Linked DNA regions of Homo sapiens. The protein of the gene in region 4 interacts with the protein of the main gene of each other region in a biochemical or structural test. Each region holds a gene or a part of one and is shown on either strand. Other genes may lie near its edges.

Region 1 (3,426 bases), on a different chromosome or scaffold from region 4:
CAGTTGTTTATACTGCCCATCCTAGGATGCTCACCTTCCAAGATTCAACGTGGCTAAAACATCTTCTGGTAAATTGTGCGTCCATATTCATTTTGTCAGTAGCCAGGAGAAATGGGGATGGGGGAAATACGACTTAGTGAGGCATAGACATCCCTGGTCCATCCTTTCTGTCTCCAGCTGTTTCTTGGAACCTGCTCTCCTGCTTGCTGGTCCCTGACGCAGAGACCGTTGCCTCCCCCACAGCCGTTTGACTGAAGGCTGCTCTGGAGACCTAGAGTAAAACGGCTGATGGAAGTTGTGGGACCCACTTCCATTTCCTTCAGTCATTAGAGGTGGAAGGGAGGGGTCTCCAAGTTTGGAGATTGAGCAGATGAGGCTTGGGATGCCCCTGCTTTGACTTCAGCCATGGATGAGGAGTGGGATGGCAGCAAGGTGGCTCCTGTGGCAGTGGAGTTGTGCCAGAAACAGTGGCCAGTTGTATCGCCTATAAGACAGGGTAAGGTCTGAAGAGCTGAGCCTGTAATTCTGCTGTAATAATGATAGTGCTCAAGAAGTGCCTTGAGTTGGTGTACAGTGCCATGGCCATCAAGAATCCCAGATTTCAGGTTTTATTACAAAATGTAAGTGGTCACTTGGCGATTTTGTAGTACATGCATGAGTTACCTTTTTTCTCTATGTCTGAGAACTGTCAGATTAAAACAAGATGGCAAAGAGATCGTTAGAGTGCACAACAAAATCACTATCCCATTAGACACATCATCAAAAGCTTATTTTTATTCTTGCACTGGAAGAATCGTAAGTCAACTGTTTCTTGACCATGGCAGTGTTCTGGCTCCAAATGGTAGTGATTCCAAATAATGGTTCTGTTAACACTTTGGCAGAAAATGCCAGCTCAGATATTTTGAGATACTAAGGATTATCTTTGGACATGTACTGCAGCTTCTTGTCTCTGTTTTGGATTACTGGAATACCCATGGGCCCTCTCAAGAGTGCTGGACTTCTAGGACATTAAGATGATTGTCAGTACATTAAACTTTTCAATCCCATTATGCAATCTTGTTTGTAAATGTAAACTTCTAAAAATATGGTTAATAACATTCAACCTGTTTATTACAACTTAAAAGGAACTTCAGTGAATTTGTTTTTATTTTTTAACAAGATTTGTGAACTGAATATCATGAACCATGTTTTGATACCCCTTTTTCACGTTGTGCCAACGGAATAGGGTGTTTGATATTTCTTCATATGTTAAGGAGATGCTTCAAAATGTCAATTGCTTTAAACTTAAATTACCTCTCAAGAGACCAAGGTACATTTACCTCATTGTGTATATAATGTTTAATATTTGTCAGAGCATTCTCCAGGTTTGCAGTTTTATTTCTATAAAGTATGGGTATTATGTTGCTCAGTTACTCAAATGGTACTGTATTGTTTATATTTGTACCCCAAATAACATCGTCTGTACTTTCTGTTTTCTGTATTGTATTTGTGCAGGATTCTTTAGGCTTTATCAGTGTAATCTCTGCCTTTTAAGATATGTACAGAAAATGTCCATATAAATTTCCATTGAAGTCGAATGATACTGAGAAGCCTGTAAAGAGGAGAAAAAAACATAAGCTGTGTTTCCCCATAAGTTTTTTTAAATTGTATATTGTATTTGTAGTAATATTCCAAAAGAATGTAAATAGGAAATAGAAGAGTGATGCTTATGTTAAGTCCTAACACTACAGTAGAAGAATGGAAGCAGTGCAAATAAATTACATTTTTCCCAAGTGCCAGTGGCATATTTTAAAATAAAGTGTATACGTTGGAATGAGTCATGCCATATGTAGTTGCTGTAGATGGCAACTAGAACCTTTGAGTTACAAGAGTCTTTAGAAGTTTTCTAACCCTGCCTAGTGCAAGTTACAATATTATAGCGTGTTCGGGGAGTGCCCTCCTGTCTGCAGGTGTGTCTCTGTGCCTGGGGGCTTTTCTCCACATGCTTAGGGGTGTGGGTCTTCCATTGGGGCATGATGGACCTGTCTACAGGTGATCTCTGTTGCCTTTGGGTCAGCACATTTGTTAGTCTCCTGGGGGTGAAAACTTGGCTTACAAGAGAACTGGAAAAATGATGAGATGTGGTCCCCAAACCCTTGATTGACTCTGGGGAGGGGCTTTGTGAATAGGATTGCTCTCACATTAAAGATAGTTACTTCAATTTGAAGGCTGGATTTAGGGATTTTTTTTTTTCCTTATAACAAAGACATCACCAGGATATGAAGCTTTTGTTGAAAGTTGGAAAAAAAGTGAAATTAAAGACATTCCCAGACAAATACTAAGACAATTTGTTGCCTATGGACGTCTGCCTTACAAGAAATACTAAATCCTTCACACAGAAAATAAATGACACCAGATGGTAACCTGAATCCACAGGATGAAATGAAGAGCACCAGAAATGGTGGATATATGTACAACTAGCAAAGACTGTATGATTGTATAGCTGCCATAAATTACTACAAATGCCCTGGCTTAAAGCAACACCTATTTATGATCTCAGAATTCCATAATTCAGAAGTCTAGGCATAGCTCAGATGGTTCTCTGCTCCATATTTTAAAAGGTCAAAATGAAGGCATTGGCTGGGCAACATTCTTTTCTGGAGGCTCGGATGAATAGGCTTCCAAGCTCATTGAGGTTGTTGGCAGAATTCAGCTCCATATGGTTGTAAGACAGGTTGGCCAGGGGTGGTTGTCAGTTTCTAGAAGCCACTCAAATTCTTTGGCTCGTGGTTCCCTCCTCCATCATCAAAACCAGCAGCAATGGGTTGAATCATCCTTGCACTTTTCTCGGATCTCCCCTTCTGCCTCATCTCTCCACTGTCTCTTCCACTGCATCTCTCTAATGCTTCTGCTTCCCTCTTCTGCTTTTAAGGGGCCATGTGATTACTCAGGGGGCCATCTGGATAATCCAGGATAATTACCCTATTTAGTAACCTCAGTTTTACCTGCAAAGTGCATTCACTGCAGTACCAAGATTAGTATTTGATTAAATAACTAGAGAATGGGAATCTTGGGGAAATAATTTGCCTACCAAAATAAATGTAAGTTATCTTTCAGTAGCATAAGACTATATAGTAATTACATCACCATACTGTTGGGTTTACAATATAGGTGCAGTGTATATTAATAACAAAGGAGTGGGTAGGAAATGGAACTCTATTGGGACAAAGATGTATCTTATTAGAATTAATTAGTCCTAATTTGAAGATGATTGTAATAAATTGAAATGCATGCTGTAGAGCCTGGAGTAACCACTGAAGCATCAATTTAAAAATAAATTAAAAAAAACAAAATGGTACACCAAGAAATATTTAACACAAAAGGCAGAAAGAAAGAAGCAAAATGATAGACATTTGGAAAACAAATAGCAAAATGGCAGCCATAAGT
Region 2 (4,636 bases), on a different chromosome or scaffold from region 4:
GGTAAGCCCAGAGGAGAGACTGGGATGATGAGGATGAGATCCTACTTGACTATCAGCTTCAGCAAGAGCCTTAAATATTAAGAGACATACCTGAAGGCCGTGATATAAAAGAAAAGCCTCTCTCCCACCTCTAGAGGAAAGAACTGGACCGATTTTAGGGAAATGCATTTGATCTTAAATTTCATCACAGCCAGAACTATAAAATATGAATGTATTAGTCGATGAATTTTCTCATTTAGAGAGATGATCCTACATGACTCTGGGGGTACAATAGAGAGGACTGTATGTGTATAGGTAGGAAGCTGAGCTAAGCTTCTGAAATCACTTACTTTCAAGCTCAACATACTTTGATAATCATTTATAGTGACTCACAATCAATTCCCTTTAAGACTTTCAAAGTCACAAATTGAAACAATGCTCATAATGAATTAAGCCAGTCTGTATGTGTGAACCAGGGTGAGCAGAGACATGAAGTAAGCAACAGTAAGATTTCACCTAATGAGGTTGAGACTTAAATAAAAGGGCATGATATTGGGGAGGAATAGAAAGGACCTAGTCTATAGCTAGGGAGTAATGGACTACGGGGGTTGATGGAAGGAGGTAATGATCAACCGATTTATCAAGACCAAATTCAAATGGAAATTCTGATAATCCTAGTCATCTTATGTAATTTTCTCATTTGAAGTCACAACATGGACTAACACTTTCTTTTTTTTTCTTTCCAAATGTGATAGGAAAGCAAAGATATCCTGTTAGTGGATCTAAACTCTGAAATCGACACCAATCAGAATTCTTTAAGAGAAAATCCATTCTTAACAAACGGCATCACCTCCTGTTCTCTTCCTCGACCAACGCCTCAGGCATCCTTCTTGCCTGAAAATGCCTTTTCTGCCAATCTCAACTTCTTTCCCACCCCTAATCCTGATCCTTTCCGTGACGATCCTTTCACACAGCCAGACCAATCGACACCTTCTTCGTTTGATTCTCTCAAATCTCCAGATCAGAAGAAAGAGAATTCGAGTAGCTCGTCTACTCCGCTGAGTAATGGGCCCCTGAATGGTGATGTTGACTACTTTGGTCAGCAATTTGACCAGATCTCTAACCGGACTGGCAAACAGGAAGCTCAGGCAGGCCCATGGCCCTTTTCAAGTTCGCAAACCCAGCCAGCAGTGAGAACTCAAAATGGGGTATCTGAAAGAGAACAGAACGGCTTCTCTGTCAAATCCTCCCCGAACCCTTTTGTGGGAAGCCCTCCCAAAGGACTGTCCATACAGAATGGCGTAAAGCAGGACTTGGAAAGCTCTGTCCAGTCCTCACCACATGACTCCATAGCCATTATCCCACCTCCACAAAGTACCAAACCAGGAAGAGGCAGAAGGACTGCTAAGGTGAATTGTCTTCTCCACATATCCATTAGCAGAGTGCATGTTCGGTACCAAAGGGTGGTGTGATGCAAGCTCTCTTTCCTGCTGCTCTCGTAGTTTCCTGTGTTGCTGTGAAATAGAAGGTGGGATAAGGCACTTTGGTTCTCCAGGAGTACTTTCCTCTAACTGCCACCGTTTTTAAGCTTCTCAGCAGTGTTTTTCACACCCTGCTTTCCGTGTGCATGTCTTGTCACTTATGATTAAACTAAACACAAGTTTTTCCATTTTTAATGCTGCTATGCTTCTATACCTCTGGTAAGTTTGATCATCGTGTTCTGGGTTGGGAGGGTGAGAGTTCTTGTGATTCCCTTTGTACTTCCCTGACACTAACACATGCCCTGCACACCCATCATGTTGCATCAGTGTCCATGGTGGTGGTATAAAATTCTCGAGCTTATCTCCTCTTTTAAATACTGAGTAAATACATAAGCTTTTTCTAAGCTTATGTATTTACTATTACCACTATGATCTCAGCTTTATTTAAGAGCAATTTAAAATGCAGTTCCCATAGGTGTCTTTTTTTACCTCTCCTAAGAATATACAGGCTTGCCTGGATTAAGACCCTATGATCTCTATGTAGACTGACTTAAAATCCAATGGAATGAACAAAAATATTTAGGATGCTTATTGGTAGTTGCCCCTTTTACACACTTGCTCCCCCAACTTCAAGCATTTAGCGATGAGACCAGACCAATGTGAGTGTGTAAAGGAATATAGTAGATTTCACTTTGCAAGTCCTAGGTAGTGTCAGACACTAAGACTCAGTAGTCCGTCCGTTGTAGGAATCTGTGTCTTTTTTTGGAGGACTCTTTTTCTGTAGTAGTAGTTGTTGTTGTTCATCTGTCAAGAAAAAAGTTTTCCTTTTTGTGGCTCTCAAATTGGGGTATAGGGTAGGAGACAAAATGAGGCTGTATTTCACTGTTAGTGAGTAACTAAGGCTTCTCCCTCCCTCCCTGTCCTGTCAGTCTTCAGCCAATGACTTGCTTGCATCAGACATCTTTGCTCCTCCCGTCTCAGAACCTTCAGGCCAGGCGTCACCCACAGGACAACCTACAGCCCTGCAGCCCAACCCTCTGGATCTCTTCAAAACAAGTGCTCCTGCCCCAGTGGGGCCCCTGGTGGGTCTAGGTAGGTGCCTAGAGATAAAATTAAGTATGACTCTTTTGCTTTTGCTCATAAAATGATGATGCATCGGAAGAGATTTCATACTCCCAGAGGGTTTTACAGCATAAGATTTGAGCATCCCAGGGAGCCCTTCTCCCACTTCTACTATACAACCCCACATCCATTTGATATTCTTGACTTGTAACTCACATTTGGCTCCTCGAGGCAGCATGAGACAAGAAATTCATTTTCAGTATTGTACTTACTTGAACCAACTGGTCATGGTTTCCTGAAAGACAATTGTAAGGGATTCTAAACTCAGACCAGCTTCAGTAGCAAAACAGGGTTGACATAAGAGAGGCTTGTCTGTCAACATGCATGTCTTCCATGTCTTTTGCCATAATAGATCGAAGGCCTATGTCCTTTCAACACATAGCCCTCTTAGAAGGAATATATGCCCAAGAAGGATGTAAGTTAAGTCTGAAGCAAGAATAAGTCATAGAGTGAAAGTCCTAGGTTCTGGGCCCAGCTGTGTTCCTAGGTGTATGGTAAGGGTAGATCAGGCACACATCCTGATCAGTCTCTGAGCACTTCTGCCATAGGAGCTCCTTGCCAATATTTTGGCTAGCTTGAGTGTTTTACTGAAGCTAGAACATAAGTCCTAGAAAGCCAAAGTTGAAAAAAGAGAGAAATAAGGGAAGAGATGGAATTTTATCAGACAGCTAGTATGCATTGACGCTCTTAATTCCTAAATGTGTCATTAGCTTGTGTGAGCCGCTGATCACTCTGTGGTAGGACAGTGGGAAAGTCCACTTGACTGAGGGCTGGCCTTGCTATTCTTAGTCCATAGCCTATAGTTCTTTTCAGACTCCATGGTACAGTTTTCAGAAACCCTGACAATAGTTTTTGCTGTCCTGCTATGGACTCTATTTTTCTTCTCTTGGCACCTCTACAAACTCCAAATGGACTCTGGCTTGGGAGGTGGAGGACTGTAGACGAGGAAGGACTCTCCTCTCCTTCGGTAAAATCTGACCAGGGATCCTGGCTTTCTCTGCCTCCTGCAGTCAGTCATCAGGATCCTTGTTTTGTTTTCCTCTCTGTCTCTGTTGTTTTCCTACAAAGGAAAATAGTTTGGTTCTTTTACAAGAAATCTGTTTAATCATATCTAGAATAGGGTGGCCAGAGGAGGACTGTTACTCAACTGCTGAGTGGCAGAAATCCGTGAGGGTATGAAAAGCCAGCTTGTCCCAGGTCTCTGCTCGCATTTACCCCATCAAGAGGCTCTCTCTAAAGACTTCATGTCTCTTGGGGGCTTCCCCCTTTCTGCGTTGCTCTTTTCCTTGCACCCCCAAGTGGAGCTGGTTGGTACCCTTCCCTCACAGAAGACCAGAGTGCTTGCAATGCAATGTCTGCAGCGAGATCACATCACAGAGCTTTTTATCTGATATCAATGCCCTTAAGAATTTTTGCAGCCAATATTTAACAAGTCAGCCTGAAAATACAGCTGGACCCTATAACTGTTTATTTATTCAGACGAAGTGAAGCTTTTTGGCTAGGTGCCCCTGTTGAGGGCTTGGGGTATACAACTGCAGAATACTGATGATTGTTCCAAGTTTGGACATGGGACTCAAACTGAGCTCTACAGTATAGTCCCTGTCCACTAGCAGGGATCCTCAGCCAAACCATGGAAGGTTGTAGGTCTGGCTTCCGCTAGACCCAGCTGGGGGACTGTCTCCCCTGGAGAACTGGGGGGGTGGGGAGAGGGTATTGTAGAAAGCTGAGCCCTCAGATTCAACTTGCTTGTATTTTAATCTAGCCTCAGAAGGTAATAAAATTAATGTTCTATACCCATGTCCCCTTTTTCCTTATTCCTTGCCCCTACTTTGTCAATGTGTTCAATGTGTTCAATGTGTTAAAACACAATGTGGGGATTTGGTGGGTAGGAATGAAGACTGGTATAAGTATATACTGGGAAAGCCTTGAATTCCTGGCAAATGTAATATTTTTCTCTCCTTTTTTTTTTTTTTTTTTTTTGAGACAGAGTCTCACTCTGTCACCCAGGCTGGAGTGCAGTGGTGCTGTCTCAGCTCACTGCAACCTCTGCCTCC
Region 3 (4,636 bases), on a different chromosome or scaffold from region 4:
ATTTGTTATTACCAAAAGTTACCTGAAATTTGGTACATAATCTTTTAGGACACTAACCTGTAAAAAGATAATGCAATTTTTTAAATTTTCTTGCTTTGCTGTTTGCCTTAATTTTTTATTTATTTATTATTATTTTTTTTTGAGAGATGGTCTTGCTCTGTTGCCCAGGCTGGGGTGCAATGGTGTGATAACGTAATGGTTCACTGCAGCCTCAGCCTCCTGGGCTCAGGTGATCCTTCCACTTCAGCCTCCCGGGTAGCTGAGACTACAGGCACTTGCCACCATGCACAGCTAATTTTTGTATTTTTTGTAGAGATAGGGTTTTGCCATGTTGCCCAGGCTGGTCTCAAACTCCTGGGCTCAAGCAGTGTGCCCACCTTGGCCTTCCAAAGTGCTGGGATTACAGACATGAGCCACCTCGCCCAGCCTTATTCCACTATTGATGATTGTCTGCATCAGTGCTAGTGGCGTTGCTGCTGCAAATGGTGTTGCATTGACTACTCTCATTACCTATATCTGAACATGTTCATGCGTTCATGCGTTTCTTTTCTTTTCTTTCTTTTTTTTTTTTTTTTGGAGACCAAGTTTTGCTTTTGTCACCCAGGCTGGAGTGCAATGACGTGATTTCAGCTCACCGCAACCTATGCCTCCTGGGTTCAAGCAGTTCTCCTGCCTCAGCCTCCCGAGTAGCTGGGATTACGGCACCCGCCACCACACCCAGCTATGTATTTTTAGTAGAGACGGGGTTTCGCCATGTTGGCCAGGCTAGTCTCGAACTCCTGACCTCAGGTGATCCACCTGCCTCGGCCTCCCAAAGTGTTGAGATTACAGGCATGAGTCACCACACCCAGCCACGTTCATGGGTTTCTGTAGGATGAAGTCCTGGAAGTAGATAGCACTATTCTGTTTCTTCAGTCTCTCCCGGCCAAGGAGATGGAACAGGTAGCATCTAAGGAATAGATTAGATTTGACAGTTTGATTGGTTTAGGATTTGTTTCATTTGATACTTTATTTTCCCCTCCAAATCTCTTTCAGACTTTGCAGGAAAAAAAAGTCATTCCTTGTCCTCCGTTTTATGAGTCAGATCATCCTGTCAGAGGTAACAACTGCTTTTCTTATTGGGCTGACCTCTAATGACATGTTATGTATATTACAGAAATTCAAAATCATGTAATGTACCTGCTCAGTGAGGTATTGGTGTTTGCTTTATGAATAATGTCACTATTTCAAACAGCTAATTAAGTCAGTGTAAATTATGGCCCTCTGGGTGACATCTGTGTTTCACGATAAATGACATGAAATGGATCCCGACTTTTTATTACAATTCTTCATAATTTGCCCTGATTATAATCCAGCAGAAAAATTACCATTTGGGGATGAGTTTGGGCTTCTTGGGTCATTGTACCTGTGCATTATATTTAGTCAATGAAATCAGGGCCTTTGATTTTTTTTTTATCCATAGTGGCTATTCCAAACATAAGCTGCTTTTTCTTGTATCTGGTTGCTGTCATTTTTATGAGCTACTGATTAAGATGTGTCTTTCAGTTCTGGATGTGCTGTGGATTGGTACCTACGTCTTCGCCATAGTGTATGCTGCTGCAGATGGGACCCTGGAAACGTCTCCAGATGTGGTGATGGCTCTACTACCGGTATGCCTGTGGAAGAAATTTCATTGTTTGAGAATTAGAGAAGTCTTCTAATAAAGCTGGAGGCTTTGATTTCAAGGGGTTTTTTTGTGTTTGTGTTTTTTTTTTTTTTTTTTGAGACAAGATCTCACTCTGTCGCCCAGGCTAGAGTGCAGTGATGCGATCTCACCTCACTGAAGCCTGGACCTCCTGGACTCAAGTGATCCTCCCACCTTAGCCTTCTGAGTAGCTGGTACTACAGGTGCACACCACTATGCCTGGCTAATTTTTTTTTTTTGGTAGAGATGGAGTTTCACCATGTTGCCCAGGCTGGTCTTGAACTCCTGAGCTCAAGTGATCTGCCCACCTAGGCTTCTCAAAGTGCTGGGATTACAGGTGTGCGTCACCGCACCTGGCCTGATTTCAGGTTCTTTTACTTACTGGCAGTGATTATGCAACTTCAGGTATAAGGTTTCCATGCTGCACCATGGGCCAGGGGTCTAAAATTGGAGTGTCCACAGCATGTTCTACTGTTATGAGGTTAAAAAAAAAATGATTTTGCTTAAGCTATAAACTATGAGTCTTGGTTAACTCGATAAATTTTAGAAAAGCAAGACAGTATCTTGATTTTTAAAATTATTTCATTTGCTCTCGAATATTTAATGCCAACAGTGTGCTAGGCACTGCTTTAAAGCTGAGTATATAGCAGTGATCAAGGTGATGGGCTTGCTTTTATGGTTTTAAGTTTGTTGTTGTTGTTAATTTTTATTTATTTTTTAGAGACAGAATCTCACTCTGTTGCCCAGGCTGGCATGTAGTGGTGCGATCACAGCTCACTACAGCCTCAAATTCTTGGGCTTAAGCCATCCTCCTGCCTCAGCCTCCCGAGTAGTTGGGACCACAGGCATGCACCAACACAGCCAGCTGTTTTTAAATTTTTCGCAGAGGTAGGGTCTTGCTTTGTTGCCCACGCTGGTCTCGGACTCCTGGCTTTAAGCAGTTCTCCCGCCTCATCTCTCAGAGCACTAGGATTACAGGTTTGAGCCACCACACCTGGCTGGTCTTACATTTTAATGGGATAGTCAATACTAAATGTGAGATCAAGGACTGATAAGAGTGATGGAGAAAATAAAGCCGTGTTAGGGATAGATGATGACTGGTATGTGTTTGAGATTGTGTGTCAAGGGAGGCCAATTTGATACTTGAAAAAGATGTCTTGTTTTTAACTCTTTTGGATTTCTAATAAGGTTGAGTTTTTGAAATATGTTTATCTAGATGCCTTATTTTAAGATTAGAGGTTTTTTCTATTCTAGGGGATAATATTAACACTAGTATTTATTAACTGCTACTTATGTTTCATGTACTGGGCTGGAAGTTTTGTATGTATCATTTCATTTTACACTTTACAGTAGCCTCTGAAGTAGGCTTAGTAGGTCTAGTATACACATGAGAACACTAAGTATCAGGAAGGTTGAAAAATCTGCATGTCTCGTGGGCAGAAAGTGGCAGAACAGAGTTTAAATGCAGTTCGGTTGATGGCCAATGTTTGTACTCCTTGTACTAAGTGCTGCCTTTATACCATGTCCGTATATCTGGACTTTGAGTAAATATTCTCATATAACTTTAAATGATTTATTATTTGAGATTCTTTTGCTGTGGGATCTGAGAAAAATTGCACATGAGAATTTTTTTTCTTGCTTTGTTCATTGTAGAAAAAAGAAGAAAAGCACCCAGAGATATTTGTGAACTTTATGGAGCCCTGTTATGGCAGCTGCACGGAGAGACAGCATCATTACTACCTCAGTTACATTGAGGAATGGTGAGCAGAGAGTCTGGACAGGGCATTCCTGCTCTCACTGGAAGATCACACCTGAGTCACCTTGTCCCATGTTGAAATCTTTTCTGATTGATTGATTGATGGATTGGCAGGGTCTCACTCCATTACCCAGGCTGGAGTGCAGTGGCACGATTGTAGCTCACAGAAGCCTGGAACTCCCAGGCTCAAGTGATCCTTCCACCTCAGCCTCCCAGATGGGACTACAAGCACATGCCACCACACCTGGCTTATTTTTAAATAAGTTTTTTGGTTTTTGTTTTTTGTTTTTAGAGATGGGATCTTGCTATGTTGCTCAGACTGGCTTCCCAAAGTACTGAGATTACAGGTGTGAGCTACCGCACCCAGCCTGAAATCTTTTCCATTACAGAGGAAAATGGAGGCTGAGATGCCTTGAACATATTTTCAGCTGATTCTTGATAATGTCTTTCTATTATTTCTGTTTCCCCAATCTTGAATTATTTATCTTAAATACATACTAATTTCAAAAATCTAATTTTCTCAATAACCCCTAGTGATGACTTACGAAAATATTGATATTCAAGGAATATATTAAAAGTTTCCTGAGAGCAGAGTTGCCCTTTGGAATGGAGATTACTCAAAGCAAAGCTTCCATCCCTCTAGCTACATTATTCTGCCTTTGGATGGCATATTGATTGTGAACTGTGACTTGATTCTGTTGTGTCTTTCCTTTGTCTTCATGTAGGTAGGCACTGAGCTGATTCTACAGGGCTTTCTCACAGAAACTAAAAAGTTCAGCTTTACATCTAGAATCTTCCCACCTTTGTTCAACCAGATAAAAAACCTTACTCTCTCTTTGACATGTGGAGGCAGCCCTCACAGGTGTTACCTGCAGACCCAGGTTAGCTTAGAACTATTGCTGTATTTGAACGTAATGGTCTCTGGTTTTATTCTTTAAGGGATTTAGTGCTGGCAGCATCTGCGGCTTCAACAGAAGTTAGTATCCTTGCTCGACAAAGTGATCAGGTAAATCTCTTTTTTGTCACTTCTGTGGTGCTTTCTTTTTTAAATTATTATTTTGAGACAGTCTCGCTCTGTTGTCCAGGCTGGAGTGCAGTGGTGCAATTTCAGCTTACTGCAACCTCTGCCTTCCAAGTTCAAGCAATTTTGTGCCTCAGCCTCCCAAGTAGCTGGGACTGTAGGCGCGGGCCACCAC
Region 4 (5,590 bases):
TGAGTTTTTAATAGAAAAATTGGATTCGTTGGGTGATTATTTTGTGAAATGTATAAGCCTAGTACATTAAACAGTTTTGTTTGGAGAAGAGTTTTACTTTATATTTCATTTTCTTTTGCAGTGACTTTAATCAAAGTACTGTGAGAAGCAGAAAAGAAAAGATCTTAGTAAGTTTGTCTTAGTTGTTGAAGCTAAGCGAGATGCAGAATGTAAGCAAAACAAATGGTGTAGGAGAAAAGTACCCCCCAAACACATGTAACTGAATATCCACCCAATGATCACTTTTTCTTAGATAACTTGGTAATATTTAACAGAAATATAACATTTCTATAAGAAATATAATACTTAGTTCTATAGACATAGCAACACTTACATATTATAACACGAACGTCAGAAAACCTCCTTTAATTATGTTTCGTCTGCATCTCAGTAATTTCTGATGAAAATTGAATTCAGCTACATGGTTCTCAAATTTTGTTCTGATGTATTATGTGATCCAGTAATACTCCACGATATGATATCTGGCCTTTTCGTTTTTTATGGTTTCTTTTTTTTTTTTTTGGAGAACAACTAATACTTTGTTACTTTTCTTGTATGTTTTCCTTTTTGTTTGGTTGATTTTTCTCCCTAGCAGAAACAGCATGATGTTAGGATGAGGATTAAGCTGTAGTGTCTCGATTTCTTTCTTCCTTTTGTAATATTCTTTTATTCCACTCTTATTTTATACACTAAAAATATGTAAGGAACTTAAGAGCATTTACAAAATTCTTAAAATACAGTTTTAGTACATTTAAACAATTATTTCTTTCATGTATCCATCATGGAAATAATGCTTATTCATTGAAGATAATTTTTTAAATGTAAGGAAGAAAAAAAAGAAAAGATAACTAAGAAAGATAAGTTTTTTTTTTAAATAGCTGGTTTTACAAATGGGAAGTGGTTTTTGATTGTTTTAATGTATATTTCTTTGATTACTGTTTTATTCCAGAAGAGGATTTAAAGCTGCTTTATGGGTTGCTAGGAAATACAAACTTACTGAAGTTAAGAGAGGGAGAGGGTGGGATGTAGTATGATAACACTAGGAGGAGGGAAAACCCGGGACTATGAAACAGGGCAATTGCTAGGTAGAAAAGGGAGTGGAGTTGTGTGAACGTTGGTGTGGGGAAGGGGAGGCATTTTAAGTCGTTAGTGTGGGAATTACTGTTATTCAGCCAGCAATACTAACCTTAGGTATAAACATGCAGTCTTAGGGACAACACGCATATCCAGTAATTATTTGGAAGGCTATTCACCAGAATGTTTAGTGGCTTTCACTTGTGAAGATGTTTGGGCTCATTTTTCCTTTCTTTTTTATTCCTTTAATTATTGAGATTTGAGTATTTTATAAAGTAGAAAATCAGAAGTGGATTATACCCATTTGCTTTTCTGGACAGTGGGGCTTTATCCGGTTTCAAGCAACAGCAAAACCAAAGGGTTCACATTTTATTCCACTTAAAAGAAATTTTAACATTTTCTCAAAAATGCTAATAGCTTTATTATTTATTACAATAATGGAAAAAATAAACACAGTAAGATAACGTATTTTAAGGTTCAGCATTTCTTTCTGATTAGATCTTTGAAATACAGGTTAAACTCAAAAAGCTTAGCGCCGTTTAACTTTATTAGCTTTAACTTTTAAAATATGCATAATATGTACCCTTATTTTTATGTTCTTTGAGTATATGAAGATAATTTATTCTTAGAATTTTTGTTTTAAAAATTTGGGGGTACTGACACTTAAATGAAAAGTTTGATACTTAAAGTTTGTGGTTAGTTTATTGAATAGATATTGTAAAAGGTTATTGAAGGAGACCCTTAACCTGTATCTTCTCTTCCTCTTTTTTTTTTTTTTTTTTTTTTTTTGAGACGGTGTTTTGCTCTTGTTGCCCAGGCTGGAGTACAATGGTGTGATCTCGGCTCACCGCAGCCTCCACCTCCTGGGTTCAAATGATTCTCCTGCCTCAGCCTCCCTAGTAACTGGAATTATAGGGATGCACCACCATGCCCGGCTAATTTTGTGTTTTTAGTAGAGATGGGGTTTCTCCATGTTTGTCAGGCTGGTCTCGAACTCCCCACCTCAGGTGATCTGCCTGCCTCGGCCTCCCAAAGTGCTGGGATTACAGGCATAAGCCACCGCGCCTGGCCTCGTTCTTTTGATAATTTTAAAATTGTTTGGATATGTGTCTTTGTTATCTTGAATCGCTCAAAACTGTTCAGTGTAAATGTAAAACTGATGAAAGTCTTCTGAACTTATTTTTCCTCCCTGGAATTACAGTTGATTAAATTGTATACATGTTTTTATTTTACATGCAGTTTATTCAGCTATTCAGATACCTTTCTGAACATAAGTGTTTTATTCAGACAACATGTTGGAAATAATATATTAGAATCCTAATGGTTATTTTCAGGGAGCATTTTACCTCTTTATACAGTAGTCTATATTTGAATTGAATTTTCTGCTTCAAACACTTAGACTTTACCAGTTAGGAATCCTTGGAGAAACACACTTTTTAGATAGAATTCAGCCTGGACCAATCCGGAACCATACTCTACCATATTTTACCCTATAGAACTTAGTGTAAGTTGTAAGCCTGTATTATTTAATACTTTTATAATCCAAAATCTTGTGTGTTTTTTAATTTTCTAAGTACTCATAAAATAACGATGTTCATTAGATTAAACAACAACAACAAAAAATTGTAGTTACTGATGGTTTTGCAGCCTACTGATTCAGATCTGAGGCATTTTTAAAGTTACGTTTTTGGCTCTTGCCCCAGAATATGTACATATAGGAATGAGCAAGATACGTACATAATGTGTATGTCCAGAGAGTAGGATTTTATTAAAAGTGGATGTTAAGGATTCACTGCAAAATTTGGACAAGATCCTGAATTATACACCCTCAGTATGCAATATTACTTTTTATAATATTATATAACATTATTATTTGTTATTTGGAGTGATTCATTGGTTATCTCTGGTAGCTGAGAGAAAAGGTAGTGAGATTATGTTGCAGCTGTGCTTGATTTGTTTTAAACTTTTGTAGAAACGCCACCTCCTGGATATATCAGTGAAGATGGAGAAACAAGTGACCAACAGTTGAATCAAAGTATGGACACAGGTAAAAAAAATGTCTTTGAAAATTCCTCAGTTATTAGATATACATTTCTTGTATTGTTTGAAATTCACAAAAGATGTTACTCTTAAATTTAGAGAAGTTGAGACGCATACCAAAAAAGATGATCTTCTATCTTGATTTAACATATCTGAACTACCAAAGAGGTCCATGTTGTCACTGAAAAATTATAACGTATGCTACTCTGCAGAATAATTGTTATTTTTTATTAGAGTAAATGAAAATTTGAAAACATGCACATACTTTTATTTCTTTTTAAGTATTTGCTTCTGTTGAAAATTTTAGTAACCCTATGACTAAGTATCTCTCTGTGATAAAAAACCATAATTACTCAAATAACAGATTTTCAGAGGAATTTGGGGGTGAAGGATGGGGATCAGCTTTTCACTGCTTTTTTAACCTAATAGTGAGTTTTGAATTATAGTAGATTAATTTCTTATGCTTAGCTATCAACTCCAAAAAGTGATGAAGAAAAAAATTAAAGCTTTAAATCACGTCTTACGTAATAAAATGTATAACTCAGCAGAACTAATAAACTACCAGTGAAATCACTTTGATGTCATTGTAATTGTCCAGTTTGATTCATTTTACCTGTCTGTATCTTAACTGTTGGACACCTTAATATCACAACCTGACAAATTATACCATCAGTCTTTCTCCACATCTTAACACTAATGCATTCTTGGTTATGATAATCTAAATTATTTTTAAGTGGATTAACATTGGTGGGGGAGGGAGGGGTTACAATAATTCTCTTGTTTAAATCCGTTTTTTTGGACTCCCAGGTAAAGAAGTTTCTGCTGTAGCTAATCATACATTTGGGTGTTTAGGAGTACCAGATAACTAAGAAAGGTAGATAATCTAATGAACGTTGGAAATAACGTGTTATACATCTTAATGCAAATAATATTTGACTTTCCACATATGTTTTACTAAAATTAGATGACACTCTTCTTGAAGCAATAATATTCTTTTTTGCCTGTGATGGACAGCTGTTACTGTGACATTTAAAAGTGAATGATGGGAAAAGATACTGAACGTCATAAACCACAGTGAGATACTACCTCACACCTACTAGATGCTATAATCAAAAAAGGACAATAACAAATGTTGGTGAGGATGTGGAGAAATTGGAGTCCTCATATATCGCTAGTAGGAATGTTAAATGGTTCAACACTTTGGAAAAGTTTCCTGTTCCTCAAAAAGTTAAATACAGAGTTAACATATTGTGGCCAGCTATGTATCCAAGTGAACTGAAAACATGTCTACTCAAAAACTTGTACATGACCATTTATGCAGGCATTATTCTTAATATTCAAAGTTAGAAACAACTCAGATGTCCATCAAATGATGAATGGATGAATAAAATGAGGTATGTTTCTGCAATGGAATTATTCAACCATGTAAAGGAATGACAGTATAGCATGACGTGTGGCAACATGGATGGACCTTGAAAGCAGTATGTTAAGTGAAATAAGCCAGAAAAAAAAGGCTGCAGGGATTCTAATTTAGTGCACAGACACCTATTCAGCAATATAACTGAAACACAGGAGGAGCAATAATACAAGTATTCGTTATGTATGATAAATGAATCAAAGTACAAAAGTGGAGAATAAGCTGAATCAGCCAGCTAAAATAATTGCAGTGTTGGGGCTAACTTTGAACCCAACCTAATATTTCTGTTTCAGTGGAGCAGTGTTACTGGCTTTCTGAATGACAGGTTTAAAAATTACTGTATGGCAATGGGAATATGTGATTCATGAGATGCCAACAGTTAGTTTGGCTGCCAGCCTCTTACCCAATATCAGTTTCTCTCTTGGGGCCATGGCAAGAAACAATTCTGACTGATGCAGGGCTCCAATTTAGAACAAAGTTGGCCACCTCTCTAACTCTGGTTCATACCTTCCAGAAGGAAGGACATAATTAAATTCATCTTTCATAACCTGCTGTTAAAAATAATGAATTGAAATTTTTTAAAAGGGCAACCAGAGGATAAATTAGGCATAATAAGTAAGTGTACGAACAAGCACTTGTTACTTTTTTCTTTTTTTTTTTGATTTAGATTTTGCTGGTCAAGACTTTATTCTTCCTTTATAGTGGATATTAGAGATCAGGCTGGACATCGTAAGAAATTTATAAGTTCGATTAACCTTTGTAGTATTGTATAATCAGTCCCTTTTCAAGTCATGATTTTTATGAACATATTTGTTCAAACAGGTATATAGAGAAATAGAATATAATAGATCATAAGATGTGGATTTCATAACTCACAATTCAGTTTTGTATCTTCTACATACACTGTGCTTGGTCCAAGATACACAAAGAGACTTAAAGGGTTTTTTAATCTGCCTGTGTCCCAGAAGATAAAATGAGGTGCTAACCTCCAATACCTCAGAATGTGGCCTTGTTTGGGAG

Evidence for each region. The genes of interacting proteins can lie anywhere in the genome.
Region 1: of the proteins of SMAD2 (region 4) and TGFBR1, one has a biochemical effect on the other in vitro, tested with the Homo sapiens proteins (one study listed by BioGRID).
Region 2: the proteins of SMAD2 (region 4) and DAB2 form a complex in vitro, tested with the Homo sapiens proteins (one study listed by BioGRID).
Region 3: the proteins of SMAD2 (region 4) and NUP214 form a complex in vitro, tested with the Homo sapiens proteins (one study listed by BioGRID).

Annotation. Positions count from the first base shown.
Region 1 is NC_000009.12:99,151,878-99,155,303, forward strand, and holds the end of TGFBR1 (TGF-beta receptor type-1 isoform 1 precursor), read left to right. Parts: 3' UTR 1-2,315; downstream 2,316-3,426. UniProt on the Homo sapiens protein: Transmembrane serine/threonine kinase forming with the TGF-beta type II serine/threonine kinase receptor, TGFBR2, the non-promiscuous receptor for the TGF-beta cytokines TGFB1, TGFB2 and TGFB3.
Region 2 is NC_000005.10:39,379,370-39,384,005, reverse strand, and holds part of DAB2 (disabled homolog 2), read left to right. Parts: intron 1-734; coding exon 735-1,388; intron 1,389-2,389; coding exon 2,390-2,552; intron 2,553-4,636. UniProt on the Homo sapiens protein: Adapter protein that functions as a clathrin-associated sorting protein (CLASP) required for clathrin-mediated endocytosis of selected cargo proteins.
Region 3 is NC_000009.12:131,131,561-131,136,196, forward strand, and holds part of NUP214 (nuclear pore complex protein Nup214), read left to right. Parts: intron 1-1,035; coding exon 1,036-1,099; intron 1,100-1,545; coding exon 1,546-1,649; intron 1,650-3,337; coding exon 3,338-3,444; intron 3,445-4,379; coding exon 4,380-4,446; intron 4,447-4,636. UniProt on the Homo sapiens protein: Part of the nuclear pore complex. Has a critical role in nucleocytoplasmic transport.
Region 4 is NC_000018.10:47,862,629-47,868,218, reverse strand, and holds part of SMAD2 (mothers against decapentaplegic homolog 2), read left to right. Parts: intron 1-3,085; coding exon 3,086-3,160; intron 3,161-4,117; coding exon of another isoform or gene 4,118-4,179; exon of another isoform or gene 4,180-5,590. UniProt on the Homo sapiens protein: Receptor-regulated SMAD (R-SMAD) that is an intracellular signal transducer and transcriptional modulator activated by TGF-beta (transforming growth factor) and activin type 1 receptor kinases.